Regions from separate parts of the Homo sapiens genome. Here regions 1 and 2 are each linked to region 3. Evidence: fine-mapped expression QTL. A gene starts in region 3. Each other region holds a variant in brackets. All regions are shown on one strand. Distances are from middle to middle.

Region 1 (8,000 bases), 78 kb after region 3:
CTAATCTAAAGAAGAGAGCTATAAAAAATGAGTAACACATAAAATCCAGTTTCAAGATGCTCCATCAATTGGTTGAATCTCATAAAAATAATTCTGTTTAGTAGGGATTAAACATAAAACTGAATATTTAGATTAAAAAATAACAATAAAAGGAAAACAATGTAACAAAATTTGGGAGAGAAAAGCTCTAAAAAATGTAATTTCCTACAAGCCCTAGATGAATAAGAGTGACAAGTTATCCCAAAAAAAGGTACACGGAACACAATTTGGGTTAGTAGAGAGAAATACCAAAATAAGTCATAAAAACGGAGTTCTAGTTTCAACTGGCCTACTTGAGTAAGAAAATGTCACTAGATAAGTGACTTAACCTGGATCTATTTCCCTACTAATAAGAAGGGCACAAAACCTACTGTGACACCTCTTACTCTTTCAGGTGGACCAAGTGATAATGTTCATTAAAATATATATATATATGCTCCTAAACCTGCCCATAAAGCACCTGATACTGGTAGCATAGTAGCACTGGTACAGGCACCCTGGGGTAAATAGGTCATCCTGCTGGAAAAGTGATCAGCCTAGAAGCTCTTGCCACTCTACCCCTGACAATCCTGGGAACTAAGGGAATCAGTATTTCTGGCCCATCTGTAACACATTCAGAGAACTGCTGGCACACTGGTTAGGAAGCTCTAACTAAAACATCACATCTAATTTGAGGCACCATAAGAGAGATTGTACCATTTTCCACAATAACCAACTCTAGCAATAGGACCAAAACCAGAGTTTTACTTGCATAGAACAGTACTGCTTAGACCTAAACAATGGCACCCATCCTGGGCCTCAAGCTTTAGAGGGCCTTGCACTGGCCTTCCTCTAACCATACCCCTGACCATGGGGCCAGCTATGCTAAGGGCCTAAAGGATGTGCCCATCTGCAGCCTACGTGCCCCAGCCCTCATCTTGACCGGGACCCCAAAATCTCCCACCTCTTCCAGGGTCTGCTCAGGCCTCTCCCCTGAGTCAGTTCTCCTAAGGACAGATGACCCAACCAACAGTATTTACAACCCTAGGCCAAAGAATGGCCAAAGAGCTGCTGTTTGGAGGGTGTACAGGCTGGAGTTCCACAGACACGCACATGCAAACTTCATAGTTCAAGGAGCCTGGGGAAGAGAAGAAGACCTCAGGTCAGAGGCTGACTCTCTGCACCTCAGCTTGTTCTAAAAACAAACTCAGAGTTGGGAGGCCAAGGAGGGTAGATGACTTGAGATCAGGAGTTCGAGACCAACCTGGCCAACATGGTGAAACCCCGTCTCTCTAACAAAAATGTAAAAATTAACGGGGCATGATGGCACATACCTGTGGTCCCTCAGCTACTCAGGAGGTTGAGGCAGGAAAATCACTTGAACCTGGGAGGCGGAGGTTTCAGTAAGCCAAGATCATGCCACTGCACTCCGCTCCAGCCTGGGCAACAAAGCAAGACTCTGTCTCAAAAACAAAACAAAAAAACAAACTCAGAGGAATCTGAATTCTCTGACTCTGATCTAGGTTATTATGAAGTTTTATTTGATAAAGTCAGCAAATGGAACATTTTCTATTTATCAGTTAACTTGACTGATAATTTGTATAGACATATGTTTCGAGACCCCGTCTCAAAAACAAAACAAAAAAAACAAACTCAGAGGAATCTGAATTCTCTGTTTGACTCTGATCTAGGTTACTATGGAGTTTTATTTGATAAAATCAGCAATGGAACATTTTCTATTTATCAGTTAACTTGATTCATAACTTGCATAGACATATGAACCTCGTCTTAGTCCGTTTAGTACTGCCATAAAGGAACACCTGAAATTGGGTAATTTATAAAGAAGGTTTATTTGGTGCACAATTCTGCCAGCTGGAAGGTTAGGCATCTGGTGAAAGCTTCAGGCTGCTTCTACTCATGGCAGAAGGCAAAGGGGAGCCAGCATGTGCAGAGATCACATGGTGAGAGAGGAAGCAAGTGGAGGGAGGTACCAGGCTCTTTTCCACAACCAGCTCTCTGTGGGGAACTAACGGAGGGACAGCTCGCTCACTCACCCCCCACCCACGGAAGGCATTAATGTAGACAGGAAGGCTCCACTCTCATGACCCAAAAACCTCCTATTAGGCCCCAACTTCAATGCTGAGGATCAAATTTCAACATTAGGTTTGGAGGGGTCAAATATCCAAACCATAGCAGATCTGCAATTTGTATCCCTACCCCGAGTCCCAAAAATGTTAGGGATGGGCCTGAAAAATAATCTAAAAACCTTGTCCTATGAGGAATAGTTGAAGAAAATGAATCCATTGAGCCTAGAAAGAGAAAAGACTGGTGGGAAGATAAAAGAACTAGCCATTTTTCACAGACAGCTAAAGAGCTATCATGTGAAAAATAAAGCAGATCTGTGTGGAGTCAGAAATGCATGGAGTAGTGTTCCAATTTCATAGAATGAGATACATTTCCTAACAATAAGAACTCTTTTTAAAAAGTTAATCGGTCATGTGAATAACTGAGTTTTCAGACAGTAAAAATAAAGAAGCAGAGGGTAAGTACCTCCCAAGGATAATGTAGAAGGAATTCTGATATTAGAGAAAGGCAGATGGCATATTCCCTGGGGGCCTATATAGCGGCAATATGAAGATATAGCTCTATATGCAGAGACTAGTGGTATGAGACACAGGCAAAACCAAAGTTACACCCTGAAGTAACCTTTCTTTCTTTAAAAGTTCCTGTCATCTTGCTCTTTCGTTATTTGCCTCCTCACCAAAAAAAAAAAAAAAAAAAAAAAAAAAAAAAGGTGAATTCCTCCATTCTTCAAAATTAGTTACTAAATAGAAGACCAAAGCAGCCTTGTCTCAATGGATTTTTCACCCTCCAGCAAATCACAACTTTCTCTACTGCTACCAGCTGGATCCTGTGACTTCTCATTATTGCTGAAAACCCTGCTCCATTTCTAAAAGTGACTCTAGCACCTCTCTATCATCAACAAATGTTTATTAAGTAGGAATGCTAGAGATACAGCAGGAGCCTAGACAAAGCCCTCACCCCTTGAGTAGCTCAGAGAGAGGGGGGTTATAAATTAAACACATGGCCGGGCACAGTGGCTCATGCCTATAATCCCAGAGCTTTGGAAGGCCAATGCAGTTGAATCACTTGAGTCCAGGAGTTCGAGACCAGCCTGGGCAACACGGTGAAACCCCATCTCTATTTAAAAATACAAAAATTAGCCAGACGTGGTGGTGCACACCTGTAATTCCAGCTACTTGGGGGCTAAGGTGGGAGGACTGCTTGAGCCCAGTAAGTCGAGGCTTCAGTGAGCTGAGATCGCACCACTGCACTCCAGCCTGGGTGACAAAATGAGGCCCTCTCTCGAAAAATAAATTAATTAATTAATTAAACAAATAAGCAAATAATAAATGAATATGAAGAAGACAAAATGGGATGATATAAAAGAAAGAGGTGGGGGTGCTACATATACAGGTAATCATGATGGTCTCTCTGGGAGAGGACGAAGGCAGCCATGACGAGACTTAAAAGAAGTACATGGCCAGGCGCCATAACTCACGCCTATAATCCCAACACTTTGAGAGGCTGAGGCAGGTGGATCCTTTGAACCCAAGAGTTTGACACCAGCCTGGACAACATAGAGAGACTTCGTCTCTACAAAAATTACAAAAATTAGCCCGGCACAGTGGCACGCACCTATAGTCTTAGCTCCTTGGAAGGCTGACGTAGGAGGATCACCTGAGCCCAGGAGTTCGAGGTTACAACGAGCTATGATCACTCCATCCTGGGTGACAGAGTAAAACCCTGTCTCTAAAAAAAATTAAAAATAAGTCATTTTAAGTAAAAGGAACAGCAAACACAAATCCCTAAGACAGAACGTGCTTTTATTCAAAGGGAAGAAACAATGTCATATACCACACACCCATAAGTATGGCCAAAATTTAAAACACTGACAACACCAAATGTGGACAAGGATGTGGGACAACAGGAACTCTCATTCACTATTGGTGAGGTTGTAAAATGGCACAGCCACTTGGGAAGACAGTGTTGCAGTTTCTTGCAAAACTAAACTTATTCTTAACATATGATCCCGCAATCGCATGCTTAGGTATTTACACAAGATGAAAACTTACTTATTAAAAAAAAAAAACCACACCCAGATGCTTGTAGCAACTTTATCCAGAGCTGCCAAAACTTAGGAGCAACTAGGATGTCCTTCAGCAGGTGAATGAATAAATAAACTGTAGTATATCCAGACAATGGAATATTACTCAGCAATAAAAAAGAAATGAACAATCAAGCCACGAAAAGACAGGGAAGAAACTTAAATGTTTATCCTAAGTGAAAGAAGCTAGTCTGAAGAGGCTACATACTCTATGATTCTAACTATATGACATTCTGGAAAAGGCAAAAGTATGGAAACAGTAAAAAGGCTGGTGGTTGACAGGGGCTGGGGAGAGGGAGGGATGAATAGCCAAATCACAGATGATTTTCAGCAGAGTCAAACTACTCTATAAGATACTATGATGTGGATACATGTCATTATTAATTTGTCCAAATCCATAGAAGGTACAACACCAAGAGTCAGTCTTTTTTTTTTTTCTCCTCTCAGAACAAGTGGGAAAAATGAGTGAATCCTAATGTAACCTATGGACTTCGGGTGATAATGATGTTTCAATGTAGGCTCATCAACTGTAACAAATATGCGACTCTGATGTGGGATGCTGATAATGGGGGAAGCTGCATATGTGTAAAGACAAGGGGTATACAGGAAACTTCTGCACCTTTAGCTCGGTTTTGCTGTGAACGTAAAAATAGTCTACTTAAAAAAAAAAAGGAACATCACTGAGACTGT[G/A]GCTCAGTGAACAAAGAAGAAAAGAAGAGAGAGCAGAAGATGAGAGCAGAGAAGCAGCCAGGAGCCATATCACACATTACAAACATTTTGGACCACATAATTTTTTGCTGCTGGGAGTTGTCCTGTGCATTACTGGATGTTGGATGTTTAGCAGCCACTTTGGCCTCTACCCACTAGATGCCAGTGGCAACCTACCCCAATTTGTGACAACCAAGAATGTCTCCAGACATCACCTGAGGGGAAAATCTTCCCTGGTTAAGAACCACTGATATGGAGCCTCATAAGCGACCAAAATGAAGGGTTTATTTCCACGGTAAAATGTTAAGTTTTTGTTTTAGCATTAAGTATATTGGAAAGCCAGTAAGCAGAATGATACGATCTGATTAACGTTTAACATTATTTTGGCTCCCGTGTATGGTAAGAATGAGGGGAAGGACAAGGACAGGAGTAGAAGCAGGGAAGTCTGCTGGCAGTTTGCCAGACGACAAAGCCTACTAGCCTAGCCTAGCCTAGGTTTTTGCCAGTGAAAAAAGTGAGATGTAGTCAGGTTCGGTTTATATTATAAAGGTGGAGGTGACCAGACTTAACATGAGATGAGGAGGAAAAAAAGAAATCAAGGAGGAGGAAGAATCCGGGGTTCTGGCCTGCGCAAGTGGTGGATGATGATGCCACTTACTGAGATGGTAAAGACTTGGGGGAGGTAGAGGAAGAAGTCACCAACAGGAAGAGTAATTCATAGCCCTCCTTTGTTCATGCTGCCTTTGAGGTATCCATTAGACATCCAAGGAGAGGCATGGAGTTACAAGAGTCTAGAGCGCAAGGGGGAAAAAAGTCAGTACTAGAAATAAGAATTTGAGCCTCATCGGCATATAAATGGTATTTGAAACCAAAAATTGGATGAAATCACCTGAGGGACATTCCAAATTTTCAAGGAGTGGGAAAGTAGAGATAAACTGGCAAAAGCATATAGAAAATGAGAATGAACAACTAAGAGGTCAAAACTAGTAAAGTTGGCCACTGTGAAATGCTGGTGAGAGAGGTCAAATAAGATACAAACATTGAACTGACCACTAGCTTTGGCAAGATCCAGGTCACTGCAGTCTTGATTAAAAACAATTTCATTGGAGTGCAATTAAAAAAAGAAATCAAGGATAAGGATGACTCCAGGGGTTCTGGCCTGCACAAGTGGTGGCTGATGATGCCACTTACTGAAATGGTAAAGACTTGGGGGAGAGAGAGGAAGAAGTCACTGGCAGGAAGAGTAATTCATATGATGAGCTCAAATGATCAGGCTAAAGAATCACTGGTGAAGAAGAAGGTACAGCAAATATAAACAACTCTTGAAATTTCTGCTGCAAAAGGAAACAAAAAAAGGACAATAAATGTAAATGAAGGGGATCCCAAGGTAAAGGTGGTTTAAAAGGTGTGATTTATTCATTTAAGGCATCAGTAGCTCAAGAGATAAAACTTTATTCCTCTCTCACCTAACCACCCAAAGATAAATGAGAAGTACAAGGCTAGGAGGCAGTTCTGCTCCACAAGATCATCTAAAAATCCATCTTATTCATCCATCCCCCGCTAAGGTATTGCCCTCACCTTTGCAGGTTGAATAATATGCCCCATCAGTGCATTAACATCCTACACTCTCATCTGCAAAAGGGGATAAAGAGAAAATAGAAAACGATTAGCTTCCTTTCTAAGGCTACAACCCAGAAATCACACATACCACTTATGTCCACATCCATTTAGCCAGAATTTAGTCCACATCCAACTATAAAAGAGAAGCTAGGAAATGCAGTTTCTAGCTGGGCCAACATGTGCCCAGATAAACCCTGAGGATCCTATATACTAAAAGGAAGCCACAGAGAATGGCATTGGGTAGACAACTAGCTATCACTGCTGCAAGTAACAAAAGGCATGGATGCTAACTGAAAGAGGATTCAGTAAAGAGAGAATGATATCTTAGGAAAGAAAACTGCTAGAATAGAAGACCTGTAGGCAAGAAGAAATGAGATCCAGGCACAAATGTACTGCCTCAGGAACAAGCTCACTTTGGTCTCTTGTCACTTCTCGCACGCTTTATTTTTCAGAAGGGTTATCCGTTGATTGCATTTCTAGTAAATTAAAGTAAACCTTTCCTTCCATCTACTAAATCAATTACGCAGAATGTGTGTAAAAATCTGGCTTTAATTGAGCAGTTCTTACTTGGGTTGTCTACCAACAGGTTGATTCAGAGCTGCTGCTTCTCCATCAAAGACAGAATGACCAAATTTCAGAGTTGGAGGGAGTCTACAAAGCCCATTTTACATGTTCAAGGTCACAAGGCTACAAAGTATCCTCTCCAATAGTACATCACAAGTCCTCAAACTGCCAGATCATTCCACTATCTCCTTGCTTACTTATAATATTCCTTTTCATAAAATAGTTTGTCTCCCCATGAAATGAACACCTCCTGAGGGCAAAGACTCAATGACACCTTCTTACCTATCTATCTTCCACTGCTTGAAGCATGGCAGGAGACACACAGATGTACTCAGTGGATACTTGTCAGTTCACAGATACAAAGAGATGTGGTTTCCCTTATCCTACTGTGTCAGGATTGCTATTCCTACTTAATCTGGAGGGCCACTGAATATAAAACAAGAAGGAAGGTCTGTCAGATTCTCCTTAGGTAGGTCAATGGAAACTGGACCTTTGGAGACAGAAATTACTTGTCCAAAGTCACAAGCTGTTTACAACAGAGCCAAGACAAACATCCAGGTCCTCTTGACTCCAGGTTCAAAACTCATTTTCCTGTTAAAAGTTGCTTCACTTTTTTGGTCTGTGTTTGATATCCTGGGTAATTACTGAACTTCACATGATATATTCTGCACAGCTACTGAAGATGCTACTCATCTTAAGAGTCCTTCAACCACCTATATTTCTCCAATGAAAGGAGGAACAGGAATTACTGTTTCCATGCTACACACAGGGAATAAAAGCAGTGGAGTCAAATGGCTTGCTTCACATCACAAGGCTGAAATCCAAATAAGGATTTTACTATTTTTAGGGCAAACTGATAGAATTTTCTAGAAGATTCTCTCCTAGAGTATGATGCTTATCTTTTCAAACAGAGACAAATTGG
Region 2 (8,000 bases), 89 kb before region 3:
AATCAACTAAACACATTTAAAAAGCATTAATGCAGGAATATAGGGAAAAAAGCTATAAGATATAAAGAAAACATATAGAAAAATGAGAGAAGTCCCTCCTTATCAGTAATTACTTTTAATGTGAATGAAATAAACAGTACAATCAAAGACAGGGATTGGCAGAATAACAAAGTAACATAATTCAATTACAGTGATGTGCCACCATAACAACATTTTGGTCAATGACAAACTGCATATATCACAGTGGGCCCATAAGATTATAAAACCACATTCTTACTGTACCTCTTCCATGTTTAGAGACACAAATGCTTACCATTGTGTTACAACTGCCTATAGTATTCAGCAGATTAACATTCTGAACCAGTTTGTAGCCTAGAAGCAATAGGCTACACCAGATAGCTTGGGTGTATGGTAGGCTATACCTATTCTAAGTATGTTTTAGAGATATTCACAACTACAAAATCACCTAATAATATATCCCTCTGAAAATAACCCTGTTAAGTGATGCATTACTATATATGGTGGTTACAGGAGATACACTTTAGACCCAAATACACAAATAGATTGAAAGTGGAAGGATGGAAAAAGATATTCCATGCAAATTGAAACCAAAAGAGAGTGGAGGTGACTATACTAAAAATAAATAAAACAGACACTAAACCAAAAAGTTTAGAAACAAAAAAGAATAGTATATGATAATAGAAGGTTCAATACACAAAGAAGATACAATTATAAGCAGTGGGGGAGAACAAGGTGGCTGACTAGATGCAGCCAGGTGAAACAGCTCCCACTGAGAGACCAAGATGACTGGCGTGCTTCTAACAGATCTTCAGAGGGAAGGCACCCAGAGTGTACACAAGGAAGACACAGAAGCTAGGCTGAAGGGGGAGAAAGCTGGGAACCCTGCATGGGGCTACTGTGCACTGCACCAGGACTCGTTCCTGGATCCCAACAGCTCCCGGGGAAGAGGTGAATTGAACTGGCAAGGAGCAACCTGCACTCGCTACAGGCCTCTGAAACCCTGGCAGGCAGAGACCCCCCTTTGACCACCATGGACACTTGAATTGGCAGGGAGAGCTTCTTAGAGAAGTGGTAGGGGCAGCAATCCAGTTGATGTGGAGCCCAGAAGGTTTGATGCAGGAGCATCCATAGCAGAGCACATTTAGGAGTGGTCATGCCCATAAGCTCAACTTGCAACCATAGGTGGCTTTACTTCAAGGGGAACTGCTAGACCTGATCTCTGCAAGATGGTCTTGCCCATCAGATGGGGCCAGTTCAATCTGACCATCCCTTGGTGTGCTGGCCTCTCCCAAGGACCCAGCCTGGCCACACATGCTTGCAGGGCAGCCTCACATGTCCTGGGAGCTATATCACAGCTTCTGCAATGGTGGACCATGCCTGACCTGTGGAGAGCTGCAGAGGGGTGGCATCTATGACCATGCATCAGCCCAGACTCCCTCCCCATATGTCAGCTTCCCCTGAGGCCATGGCAACTCCACACATCACTTTGCTGGCACATGTCAGTATGGGCAGGTTTCGCTTTCCTTTCTCCACCAGTGAACAAGAGTGCAATCCACCCTACCTCCACCTGCCGACCACCACTGTAGACGGAGCCTTGGTGGGCAGAGCCAGCCAACCCCAACCCTGCCTGCACCCTGCCCTTATACTAACACTGCACAGAGAACAGCGAATCCTCTCCCACCCTGAGTGACCACTTCTGCTTATGTGGCACAGAGAAGGCACCTAGACCTGCGCCCACCAGCTCCCAAGCCAACACCACCTCCAGCACAACTGTGTGCACAGTAACCAACAGAGGGCCTCCACCCACCACCCAGCTGCATTGCCCCTGCCACTGTGGTGAATGCCCATAGGGAGCCAAGCACCCTGGCACCCACTAGCACTCTGCTGCAGCTGCTGTTACAAGGATGGACCCTGCTATCACCACACTATGAAATGCTTTGACTGTCACCACCCATTGGAGTGTAGTGACCAGCAGTCCAGGAGCACTTTGGTCCCCACCAACACAGTGGATTCCTAACCTCAAGGAGACAGAGAACAAAGTCTGGATGTAATACAGTTGGGAGCAGAGCGCTGGTCCCCCCAAAAATTTCCAGAAATGAAGCCAATCAGCTGAATCCCCTTCATAACACAATCAAACCCTAAAGGTCATCAAATAGGATAAAAGGGGGAAAAAAAACATCCAAAGGCCAGCAACCTAAAAGACTGTACATAAGCCCACAAACATGAGAAAGAATCAGCACAAGAACCCTGAAAACTCAAAAAGCCAGAGTGCCTTCTATTCTCCAAACAAATGTATCCTCTCTTCAGTAAGGGTCCTGAACTGGCCTGAAATGGAAATAGAATTCAGAATATGCATAGGAATGAAGATCACTGGGCTACAGGAGTACACTAAAACCCAATCCAAGGAAGCTAAAAAGCATGATAAAACAATACAGGAGCTGACAGACAAAATAGCCAGTATAGAAAATAATGTAACCAACCTGATAGAGCTGAAAAACACACTACAAGAAGTTTATAATGCAATCACAAGTATTAACAGCAGAACAGACCAAGCATAGGAAAGAATCTCAAAGCTTGAAGACAGGCATTCTGAAATAAGACAGACAGACAAGAATAGAGAAAAAAGAATGAAAATGAACAAATAAAACCTCCAAGAAATATGGGATTGTGTAAAGAGACCAAATCTACAACCCCCTGGTGGCCCTTAAAGAGGTGGAGAGAATGGAACCAAATTGGAAAACGTATTTCAGGATATCATCCATGAGAACTTCCCCAACCTAACTAGAGAAGCCAACATTCAAATTCAGGAAATGTAGAGAATTCAAGTAAGATACTTCACAAGAAGATCATCCACAAGACACATAATTGTCAGATTCTCCAAGGTCGAAATGAAAGAAAAAATGTGAAAGGCAGCTAGAAAGAAAGGTCAGGTCACCAACAAAGGGAAGCCCATCAGACTAACCACAGACCTCTCAGCAGAAACCCTACAAACCAGAAGATATTGAGAGTCAATATTCAACACTCTTAAAAAAATTCCAAGACAGAATTTCATATCTGGTGAAACTAAGCTTCATAAGCAAAGGAGAAATAAGATCCTTTTCAGACAAACAAATGCTGAGGGAATTAGTTACCACCAGACCTGCCTTACAAGAGCTCCTGAAGGAAGCACTAAATATGGAAAAGAAAAACTGTTACCAGCTGCTACAGAAACACACTGAAATAAGCAGACCAATGATACTATAAAGCAACCACATAAACAAGTCTGCAAAATAACCAGCTAACATCATGATGACAGGATCAAATCCACACATATCACTACTAACCTTGAATGTAAATGGGCTAAATACCCCAATTAAAAGACACACAGTGGCAAACTGGATAAAGAACCAAGACCCATTGGTATGCTGTCTTCAAGACACCTATGTCACATGCAGTGAGAACCACAGGTTCAAAATGAGGGAACTTCTATCACCTAACAACAACAAAAACAAAAACAATTTAAAAATGGGCAAAGTACTAGAGAATAGACATTTCTCCTAAGAAGATATACAAATGACCAGTAAGCACACAAAAAGATGTTCAAAATCACTAATCATTAGCAAATGCAAATCTAAACTACAATGAGATACCACTTCACATACATAAGGACACCTATTATCCAAAAACAGAAAACATCAAGTGCTGGTTTCAAATTAGAGTGACTAAAACCCTTGTACATTGTTGGTGGTATTCGTACTGCCACTGTGGAAAAGAGAATGGTGGTCCTCAAAAAGCTTAAAAGGAGAATTATTATATGACCTAGAAGAATTACTATATGACCTAGCAATTCCACTTCTGGGTATACACCCCCCAAAGACAAAACAGAGTCTCAAAGAGACATTTGTAAACCCATGTTCACAGAAGCATTATTCATCATAACTAAAAAGCAGAAGTAACCCAATGCCCATCAACAGATGACTGGATAAACAAAATGTGGTGCACACATTTACACATGTATACAAACAGGCAAAATGAAATATTATTCAGCCTCAGCCTTTAAAAAGAAAAAATTCTGACATATGCTACAACAGGGATGAACACTGTGCTCATGTTAAATATACCAAACACAAAAAGACAGATACTTGATTCTACATATGTGTGGTACTTACAGCAGTCAAAAGAAAATATGGGAAATCCAGCAGAGATTAAAACTATGAAAAAAAGTTCCATAGAAAATGCGAAAAATGATTTTTTGTATCAGATTTTAAGAGCAAACTGGCAACAGTAAATGAAAGGAGCAGTGAACTTGAAAACAGGTCAATGAAAAGTATCCACACTGAATCACTAAGAGAAAAAAAGAATAAACAAAAATAACAATACAGTTCAGCTCCCTAAGAGAATGTCAAACACATATAACCATAGATATAATTGGAGTACCAGAAGGAGATAAGAGAGAATGAAGCAGAATATCTCAGGAGATACCAGATGAGAACTTTCCAAAATATGTGAAAACATCAGCTTCAAAATCAAGAAACTCAGTGCACCCCAAACTAAATGAATAAATCAGTACTAAACATATCATAATTATAATTTTGAAAAGGAAAGATAAAGAAAAAACTTTCAATCTATAAAGAAAAAAACATACATGACTCATGGTGGAAAAGTATAAATAACAGCTGACTTCTCATCAGAAACAAGAGAGGGGAGAAGACAAAAAGAAAACATCTTTTAAGTGCTGAAAGAAATGTTGTCAATACTATTAATATAATTCATGCCAATAACCATCAGAAATTAAGCAACATAAAAATATTCACAAATAAAAATAATCTGAAAGAATCTGTCTCCAGTAGACT[A/C]GTCCAACCAAAAAACTAAAACAAGTTCTTCAGGCTAAAGAGAAATGGTACTAGACAAAAACCCAGAACTGCAGGAAGGAATAAACAGTTCCAGAAATAGGAAATATCTAAGTAACTATAAAACACCTAACATCTCAACAGTAACAGATGGAACGGTTTAAGAATATCTTTTAAGTTCTGAGAAAAGAGATTTACCAAGATGTTATTCATACCTAAACTATCATGTAAAAATAAGAGCCAAAAAAAGCATTTTCTGATGAACAAAAACTGAAGAGTTCCCACCAACAAAACCTCACCAAAAAAAATTTCTAAAATATGTACCTCAGAAGAAAAGGGATTCTAAAAGAATAAACTGAGAAGTAAGGTAGAAATATTGAACAAGAAATTCAGGAAATAAGTTTATAAATCGAAACAAATTTAGCTATATAAGAATAGTATTTAATTATGAAAGATGAAAAGTTAGAATTATCATCCTGAACAACACTAACATGGAGGAAAGAGTGATCACAGTTAAAATATTCTAAATGCTGATACTTTATGACAGAATCAGAGATACCAAAAAATTTAGCCTTTAAATTAGGTTTTTGAGTTATGATTTTAATTGCAGCCATAAAAAGAATAGAAAAATGATACATATTTTCTATTTTCTGGTTTCCAAACCAAAAGGAAGAGGATAAAATTTTTAAATGTCAATAACCTTAAAAGAAATTAAGACTAGAAATAAAATTAATCTCTCTAGGAAGAAATGGGGAGGAAGGCATAAGGAGAGAGAACATTTCAGAAAAAAAAAAGCAAGGAGATAAGAAGAAAAGAAAAAACTAAAAGAGAAAGAAGATGGCCAAATGGTGTCAATAAAATGGTAAAGTAGGTGGCTACAAGCTTCAATCCCTCCAAAAATCACAAAAAACAAGCACAATCTCTCAGAGTCAACTTTCTCAGTACTCCAGAAAACAGTAAAGGGTTTAGAATAACCAAGAGATCACTGAATCAAGGAAAAAGCCACTTCAAAATAGGAAAGCTTTGTGGCATTTTTACTTGTGCTTGCCCCAAACCTCTCTGGCTCAGCAGTAGTCTTAATGATGCCAACCCTCACCGGGCCTGAAAGGAATAGACAGACCCTATTCACAAACTATTGTTTGTCTCTTCTAACCTGTCTAGAGGCTACCTGAAGAACTGATGCAAGGTGCTTACCTACATTTCACCTAATATGGAACTCATTCAAGGAGGAAAACCATTAAATATTGCTTAAAAATACAGTAAGGCAAACAAAAACTCTACAACTATCTGGAGCAAAAAAATTATATTTGAGACATAAAGTAAACAACCTAAAATCTAAGAGGGAAAGCTGAGTAGAGAGGTCTCTGGGAAATGACAGCATTCAAAAGTGCCTGGGTATATGGAAGTATTTTGAAAGCCATGCACACGCACAGGGTAGGACACATACTCACAAAAAGCTAAGAAGTCCCTAGGTTTTCACCTCCAGCTGACCTCTAGGATAAGTGTAACATGAAGGGAAGACGAAGGCAGACCTGTAAACAGCTTCGCTAGGTGTTGAATGAGTATTCCAGTACAGAAGCAACACGTAAAGACCGGAGAAAGTGGCTTTTTCATTGATTTTTATTTTTCACTCCTGGCATTCAAAAAAATCCCTGACAAAACACTACCTAAACACAAGCTAAAAGAAGAAAGACTTTACTAAATACATATGACAAGGAATACAGTCTTCACTAAAACAGTTTGGAAAAAAAAATCACCAAACAAACCGCAGCCATGAACAATGAAAAAAATCAAACTCTTAAGGATAGACGAAAACCCAGTTTCCAGAGTTACTACACTATAATATTCAAATGTACAGTATGCCACACAAGCCACAAGTTATACAAAGAAACAGGAAAGCACACATTCATCAGAGGAAAAAACAAAAACTGTACCTGAGAAGTCTATATATGGGACTTAACTAGACACTAAATAAACTGTATTCAACACATTCAAAAAGTTCAAAGAAACCATGGACAAAGAAATAAGGGAAATCAAGAAACTGATGTATGAACATATGAGAATATTAGCAAGAAGTTATAAAGTATTAAAAAAACAAAGTCTGGGGCCAAAAGGTACAATAACTAAAGTTAAAATCTGACTAGACAAAAGACAACAGATGTTGGTGAGGCTGCAGAGAAAAGGAATTGCTTATATACTGTTGTTGGGAATGTAAATTACTTCAGCCATTGTCGAAAGCAGTTTGGAGATATCTCAAAAGAACTTTAAAAACAGAACTACCATTTGACCCAGCGATCCCATTACTGGATATATATACAAAAGAAAACAAATTGTTCTACCAAAAAGACGCATGCACTCACTTGTTCATCACAGCACTATTCACAATAGCAAAGACATGGAATCAACCTAGGTGCCCATCAAAAGTGAGCTAGATAAAGAAAATATGGTACACACATACCATGGAATACTACACAGCTATAAAAAAGAAAAAACCACGTCCTTTGCAGCAATATAAATGCAGACAGTGGTTATTAGCCTAAGCAAATTAACACAGGAGCAGAAAACTAAATACCAGACGTTCTCACTCATAAGTCGGAGCTGAACATCAGGTACTTACGGAAATAAAGATGGTAACAATAGACACTGGGGACTACTAGATAGGGGAGGGTGGCAGTGAGGAAAAGATTTAAAAACTAACTTTTGGGTGTTATTCTCAGTACGTGGGTGATGGGATTACTTGTACCCTAAACCTCAACATCACACAATATACCCAGGTAATAAATACACTTGTACATGTACTCCCTGAATCTAATATAAAAGTTGAAAAAGAAAATAAATATTCACTAGATAGCTCAACAACAGATTTGATCAAGAAGAAGAAAGAATCAGTCACCTTAAAGATAAGACAAGTAGATAAAATGTAATGAACAGAAAGAAGAAATAATTTTAAAAATTAATCAGTGCTTTAAAAAACCTATGAGACCCATCAAGTGGACCAACTCTCGCATTATGGAAATCTAAGAATGAAAAAGAGAATGGGGCAAATATTATTTTTTAAAATAATGGCTGAAATCATTCCAAATTTGATGAAAGACATAAATGTGCACATCCAAAATCCAAAGAGTTCCACACCAAGACACACTATAATCA
Region 3 (8,000 bases):
AATAGCTGGGATTACAGGAACCCGCCACCACACCCAGCTAATTTTTGTATTTTTAGTAGAGACAGGGTTTCACCATGTTGGCCAGGCTGATCTCAAACTCCTGACCTCAGGTGATCTGCCTGCCTCAGCCTCCCAAAGTGCTGGGATTACAGGTGTGAGCCACCATGCCCAGCCTCAGTTAATTGTTAATACTACCTCTCTGTACTTCCAGGATCATTAAAACTGGCTGGGAAGCCTGAAATCAAGAATTTCTGCAGAAGATAAAAGAACAGGCAGAGTAATAAAAACAGAAAATCTTGAAATTGTTTTATGGGCTTCCAGGGGAAATGAGCCATTAAAAGAAATCATCTAGATCTGATCTGATCGCCTGGGCCTGGGAGTTCAAAGCTGTTTTGAGCCTAGAAGATGTACAATACCACAGTCAAGACCCTTACTACCTACTTAGACTGCCACAATAGCTTCTAACTTGTGGCATCCTTCCAAATAAGATAACTGGTCCACGGTCCAGGGGTTGGGAACCCCTGAGGTAGAGGATGAATAATGCAACCAACCAACGAGTCAAGTGCATGAAGTATCATTAGTTCTATAATGCTATAAATCAATAAAGGCATTGTCCCCCCCAATTAAAATATGTTCACCAAATCATCCAGTTTAACTAAAGTCAGAACTTTCTCGTCACTTAAAATGAATTGCCTTAATAATGGAGATATACGTGAAGATCAGCGATCTGGGCATCTACAGATCGTGATCAAAAATATGGTTCAATTAAGCACTATATCATCTCTGTAGCTGCTTCAAATTATATGTCATATTTGCCAGGCTGTCTATCAGCCCATAACGTGGTATTAGGGAAGTCTAAACAAAATCATATGATAAACATTTCTACCTTCAAATGCCAAAGAACTAGAACCTTTCATGATTCCTAGGTGTCCTAGAGGTCACATTTTTTAAAAGTCACATTATTGTGTTCATTACTTCATTTTTATGATGGTCACATAATCTATATGTCATTGATGCTCATAACCTCCTCAAAAAAAAGGAATTTCAAAACTTGAGATATCAGCTGTAGCCTCTTATAAGTTATCACTTAGCAGAAAATAGCATTTAGCAGAAGATAGCCCCAAAAATCTTTCATTAAAGTCTTCACTTTCAAAGTCAGTTACATCTGGGTTCAAATTTTTGTGCTACCACTTGCAAAATTTTGCTCCACCATGACAAATGTGGGCTGTGTGACTCTCTGAGCCATAAATTCCTCACCGAGGAAATAGGAAAAATGATACCTGCTTTATAGGAGTGATAAGCAGTTAACTGATACACTGTATAAAGCATATATATGGCCTAGTACATTACATATAACAATTTCTAAGTAAAGTTTTTCTTTCTTGATAGAATTAAAACATTTATGTTTTTCCTTTTCTGCCTTATATTCCTCCTTCTTATCCAGGGATGGATTTTTCTAATCATCTCTAGGAACTATTTTATTCTAAGGACTAAATATTCTAGTCTAATAACTATTTTACCACAGTGACAAGGTAGGTAATAATACCGACTACAAATAAGAAATCAGAAAATGAAAGATCTGTGAGTCAATGGCAGACAAATTTAAACTACCACCATGAAGGAGACCGGCAACTTCCCATAGTGAAAGAGTGTTAATAAAAAGGATCCTTTCCTCCAACTGAGTCCAAAAATAAATGCTATTTCAAAAGCTACTGGACAAACATTAACTTGTCTCTGAGACTACTTCCTCCTAAAGCAGATGGCACCTGGAAGCACCAGAAGCCTACATTCTAGGTGTGGTATGACTTTACTCTCTTAGCCATGGTGCCTTAAGTTACACAAGAGCAGGCTTTTAAGAGTGCATTTAAAATGTAGTTTACAAGCTATTCAGGGAAAAAGAAAAGTGCACAATCTTTTGCCCTCATCTCAGCTATGTGTGTGTATGTGAATGGAAATGTAACCAATACGACAGCTTGATGTCACATGTATTTGCAGAGATTTTTATAAAAACACAGTAAGACATTTTTAAAATTATTACATTGATTTTACAAAAACAACTGTCATACCACACTGAGTCTACTATTTGGTCCTCCCAAGGTTACAGCTGCAACTCCTATCCGACCCTTCCCCTTCCACACCCATGCCTCCATTTTCCTGTAGGGCATCTCGGCAGGAACACCACCACGAGGTTGTGAAACCACTCTGCTGCCACATTTCCTCATGCCTCACTGCTGAATGCGTGAGAGACACTACATGAAATTGGGCCTTGCCCAGACCTCTTTGTTACATTTGTAAATAAAATCAGATCAAATCACAAAGATATAATTGATTTAGGAGAGCCATGGTGCTATTCAGATAGGAAATATAAACAGAAGAGAAATGCCCTATGGTATCATAGTTTCCTTAAACAACACATCACTAGCTCAGTTTCTCAGAGTGAAAATGCTGTCACATACTCCCAAGGAAAAGAAGAGCTCATCCTTACACAAATTTGCTTTTAACTGTCAAAAGAAAATCCCAGAGAGACGCCCACTGCCTTACAAGTAAATCTAGGATTACAGTACCAAATCTGTTATAAAAACAACAATGAAATAAGTTCCAAGTTGTTTCTTCCTTTGACAAATACCCAAATAACTTCCATAATTTGAATACCAGGTCAAAAAGTTTTATTACAAGCAAAACAAATACTTCAGTCCTACTCATTGTTAGCAAGACACAAACCATATTAAAAAGCAGAACATGTGACTAACAATTAGCATACCTTGGAAGGGAAGGGACTTACTCAAATTTGAAAGGCTAGATAAAATTATGGGAAAATGAGACAAAAGTTCAGACAAAAAATAATCATATGCTAATAATTCATTTTTATACTCTGAAAATTATTCTTTTAAAATTTTAAATATACTTCTCATTTATTTGAACCCCAGAGTAAAAAATTTAGTGAGGGTTATCAAGAGTTCCCAATATTCAATCCCTTCCATCATTTAACCTAGACTTTAAAAAATAAAATTTGTGGATAAAGAAATCCTTTGACTCGAGAAAAGGAGAAACTCTTTTTCAGCATTAAACACAAAGACAGTATCTGATGAAAACAGTATATTCACCTATCCAAGTTCTCATAGGTAAACTTATAAAAGATGTTTAATTGCACATGTGAGTGGCAGTGATAATATGCAGCAACAAACTTCAAACTTCATCAAGAGATTTTTGTGATACTCAAAGGTATTACATCGCTAACTCTGAAAGAAAAAGAAAAGCCAGAATAAAGCCCCCTAAAATTTGCAACAGTACAACAGAATGAATGAAACATTGGTTCTGTTTTCACAAACTGGTTAAGACATCTTTCTTCACCACAGACACTAAACTGAGAGCTGCTTCATCAGGAGGCATCCTCTAAAAACTTCAATTATGAAGTTACTAATACTACCAGAGATTCAAAAACCAAGAGAGATTTGGGGGAAAGGGGGCATGAGATACAAGATCAGAGACAAGGGTAAAGATCAAAGCCACAAAATAACCAATCTGTACTTAATCGGAATTTTTCATACCCATGCATAAGGCAAACAAAGCAGGCAGGCAGGCAGGCACGCACACACACACACACACACACACACACACCACATTCCAAGAAAAAGAGGAAGAAAAATCTATTAGATACAAATTCAGATCAAATCTATTTGATACAAATCAGATACAGGAAGGGGTAGTAGTTCATTATGAGTGTCTACTTGAAATTCCTGAAAGGCTACTACAAAACCTGTCTAACACCTTCTCCTCCTGGCGTTCTAACAAGTCCTTTAAAATGCATTTTACAAGTTCAGGGCAAGTTGTGGAATGAGGAGTGCTATATACAACTCAAAACCTGCTCCCTTGAGCTCCAAACCTTCCCCCAGAAAACAGAAAGTCTTATTGGAAAAAAGACCGAAATGCAGAGAAGAAAAAGGGGTGCGGGTGGGGGTAGGGAGTGGACAGGACAAAGGAACTGTGAATTCCATAATCACCTGAACTTCTCTTCCCTTTCTTCCTCTTCACAGTCAGTCACCTGGATTATAACTTCAGACTCCAACCAGAAGACACTGTCATCCCCTAAAGTGCTACTCTCACTTTCAGTCTCCATCTTGTACTTAAAAAACAAAAAAAACTAAACCTCCAGGCATGGAATAAAAAGCACCAACATTCAGGTTGTTCAGCTCTACTCATGTATACTCAGATGTGTGTCTGGTGCCCTAGTGACAGGTACTGGTGCTGGTTTAATTACAGTCAGGGTACAGACAGGAAATCACAGGCAGCACAGTCACTGCGTCTGACTGCCATACTGGTGACACCTAGACCCTCCCACTGCCTTAGGCTGCGTGACCTACATAACCAAAAGCAGAATCTAAATGAAGGTGATTTTTTACTAATTATTCTGTAATAATGACTCTTCTCAAAGTTTCCACTTAATAAGTTAAAAATAGGTATTTTCAAAATGCAGGCTTTATTTGTATCCTTTTTTGATCTCGGACTCCAGAAAGGTAAATAGAAAACTAGAAAGAATAACACCATCCACTGGCCAAGCACATGAGAAGCACAGTTATAGATCTCACAGTTAAGGAGGCTCACAATAAGTAGAGAAGATAAGTATGCTCTAGGGACCTGCCTAGGTTCATGCCTTCCAATATTACACCCATCTTTCCTTCCTCTCAGTAAGGACTGCCATATGCATCTCTGCTCAAGTATCCAGAGTGAGACATAAAAGCTGGGCTTGTCCACAGTCCTTGAAAGAAAAAAGTTTAAGTGTCCCAAGTTCAAAGATGCTGACAATCACATCAAATAAAAGCATGCAAAGTTTTACACATTTAAACTGCAAACAGTCATGGTGGCAATAAAATGACTTGCTGGGAAATGAGTGAAAGGTATAGCATCTATGACTGTCAACAACACAACTGTTACTTAGAAAAGAGCCATGTTGACAGAAACTACTGACCTGCTGGATATTCATGGCTATTTGTCTTTTACCAAGCAGCAACAAACTGCAAAGCCCTGACTTTCCACTGTATCTGATTTAATCAAAAATTAAGAAGACATCTACTGAAGTCTTCTTGAATTTTCATATTTGAAAAATAAAGAGCCAAGCACAGTGGCTCACGCCTGTAATCCCAACACTTTGAGAGGCTGAGGTGGATGCATCACTTGAGCTCAAGAGTTCAAGACCAACCTGGGCAACTTAGCGAGACCTCATCTTTATGGGGGGGGGGGGGGGGGGGCGGGAAACAGCCAAGTGTGGTGGTGCACCCTGTAGTCCCAGCTACTCAACAGGCTGAGGTGGGAGGATCGCCTGAGCCTGGGAGTTCAAGGCTGTTGTGAGCCATAATCACGCCACTGCACTCCAGCCTGGGCAACACAGCAAGACCCTGTCTCAAAAAAAAAAAAAAAAAAATATATATATATGCAGGTCCCTAGAGCATATAATATATATATTATATATAATATATATATATTATATATAATATATATATATTATATAATATATGTTATATATAATATATAATATATGTTATATAATATATATAATATATGTTATATAATACATATACAATATATATTATATATAATATATAATATATATTATATAATATATAATATATATTATATATTATATATTATATATAATATATATTATATAATACATATAATACATATATAAATTTTAAAAACTTTTCAAAAAAAATTTTTTAAACCAAAAACAACAGAACAACATTATAAGCAAAGTCAAAATGCAAACAAGTTGAGAAAAAAATATTTGAAACATATCACAAAGGGTTAATTTATTTAATATATAAAAAGTTCTTAAAAACTTCTAAGACCCAAGAGCTCAAAAGATAAATAGGCAAAGAGCAAAAATATAATACTCAGAGATAAACATAAAAGAAACTTAAAAGATGTTAAAAGTAACTTCACTGATAACAGAAATGTAAAACAATACATAATAAGATGACTTTTAAAAAATCTATCACATAGGCAAAGCTTTTAAAAGGTTTTAACAAACTGAAAGAGGACATGGGAAAAGAAACATGCCTGTCAGTGGGAGTTTAAACTGGTACAACCTGTGTTCAGGGCAATTTAGCAAAATCTACCAAAATTCAAAATGCACATCTTTTTGGCCCAGCAATTTCTCTTTTAGGAAATTATCTCACTTTCACAAGTAGAAGTAAGAGGCAAACAGGAACATTCATTCTGGTAGACATTATAGTAGCAAAATAGGATAGCAAAAACAACCTAACTTCCTGAGGAATAGAAAACTAGGCAAATTACAGAATACCCATAGAATGGAATGCTACACAGTGAGTATATGAGAAAACAAGGCAGCCCTACAGGTCACAATACGGAACAAAGCCTAAGGAATACTGTTAAGGCAAAGAAGAAAGGGGTAAAAGTATAGGGCAGTATGTGCAGTATGCTATGCTGCCATCTGTGTTTTCAATGAGGAGTTAGGAGAAACAAATGCAGACTATCTATGGAAGAAGAGGATCAGTACTAGTACCAGTAGTTGTCTCCACGGAGGAAAACAGACAGCTGGAGAAGAGGAATAAAAGAAAGACACGCTTGAACCCGGGAGGTGGAGATTGTTGCAGTGAGCCGAGATCACGCCATTGCACTCCAGCCTGGGCAACAAGAGTGAAACTCCGTCTCAAAAAAAAAAGAAGAAAGAAAGATAGTTTTTCACTATGTCATGCACATATAATCCTTACCAAAATATTAACTAATTTTAAATAGAATCTTTCATGACCTTCAGTAAAGAATTGGATTTTTAAATATTATTTCATTAAGAATCTAGTTCTTTTTTTTCTAAACAACTCTAACTCCTTCAAAGTGTTGTTTTTTTGTGGGGGGGGGGGTTGTTTTGTTTTGTTTTGTTTGTTTGTTGAAACAGGGTCTTGTTCTGTCACCTAGGCTGGAGTGCAGTGGCACGATCTCGACTCACTGCAACCTCCACCTCCCAGTTCAGGCAATCCTCCTGCCTCAGCCTCCCAAGCAGCTGGGATTATAAGTGTGTGCCACGACACCTGCTAATTTTTGTTGTTGTTGTTGTATTTTTAGTAGAGATGGGGTTTCACCATGTTGGCCAGGCTGGTCTCGAACTCCTGATCTCAAGTGATCTGCCTGCCTCTGCCTCCCAAAGTGCTGGGATTACAGGTATGAGCTACTGTGCCCGGCCTCAAAGCGTTTTCATGAATCCTATTCACCTTTTCTTTTAATCATTCTTTTGTTCTTTCATTATGATGGTTGATTTCCCTCACTTCGAGCCTTTCAAAAGTGAAAACGTGAACTGTGAGTGGTATTTTTACACAGAATACTGAAGGACAGTTAAATGTGCACATCTTCCGAGGCTTGTTCTGTTTTGACTCTGCCATCACAAGTTTTTTAAAAATGTTTTTCCTGCCTCAGCTTCCCGAGTAGCTGGGATTACAGGCACCCGCCACCACACCCGCCTAATTTTTTATTTTTAGTAGAGAAGAGGTTTCACCATGTTGGCCAGGGTGGTCACAAACTCCTGACCTCAAGTGATCCACCCGCCTCGGCTGGAGGTTGCTGTGAGCCGAGATCACGCCATTGCGCTCCAGCCTGGAAGACAAGAGCGAACCTCCGTCTCAAAAAAAAAGGAAAAAAAGTTTTTAAATTCAAAACCTACATGTGTTTCTGTTTTCTGTTCCCTTCTCCAGTAGTAAATGAAAATCCAGCGGAATCAACAGGTGATGGTTAACAGCGGGGGCAGGGATGGAACACAGCCGAGTCCATCACTCTGGCTACCAGTGTGTGAGAGAGACTAGATACTGCTGAAGACCACAAGGTGGTTTTAACTCCTTTTCTTCCTGATTTGTTTAAACCCTGATCAGCCTTCACTTTCCCAACAAGCTTTTATGGAGCTGAAGTCTTTGACTGAAACCACAGGAGTCACCAGCAGTAATTTCGAACTAGCTGGTTCTCATCTTCTACCTCCAAGAGGTAGGGAACCTGAG

Which allele goes with the higher level. Positions count from the first base shown, and alleles are read on the strand shown. Sizes are in standard deviations (SD) of each study's normalised expression. Not every link is listed here.
For the expression in tibial nerve of the gene that starts at base 4,244 in region 3, C is the high allele of the variant in region 2 and A is the other (moderate effect, 0.74 SD a copy in GTEx).

The links. PIP is the estimated chance that this variant, and not a neighbour inherited with it, causes the effect.
Region 1: its variant is the best candidate, but not a certain one, in a credible set for the expression of ARHGAP32 in whole blood (TOPMed, PIP 0.70).
Region 2: its variant is the best candidate, but not a certain one, in a credible set for the expression of ARHGAP32 in tibial nerve (GTEx, PIP 0.89).

What each region holds. Positions count from the first base shown.
Region 1 is chr11:129,265,885-129,273,884 of GRCh38, forward strand. The region is part of intron 1 of LOC399975 (a long non-coding RNA gene); the gene reads right to left. It also overlaps a transcript of ARHGAP32 not described here. Among named protein-coding and RNA genes, the nearest start is that of ARHGAP32, 78 kb to the left of the region's middle. The variant G/A (reference allele first, on the strand shown) is at 4,877.
Region 2 is chr11:129,099,015-129,107,014 of GRCh38, forward strand. The region is part of intron 5 of ARHGAP32 (Rho GTPase activating protein 32); the gene reads right to left. Among named protein-coding and RNA genes, the nearest start is that of ARHGAP32, 89 kb to the right of the region's middle. The variant A/C (reference allele first, on the strand shown) is at 4,854.
Region 3 is chr11:129,188,082-129,196,081 of GRCh38, forward strand. ARHGAP32 (Rho GTPase activating protein 32) reads right to left here and starts at 4,244. Exons shown (of 23, transcript NM_001378024.1): 1 at 4,002-4,244. The coding sequence starts at 4,117.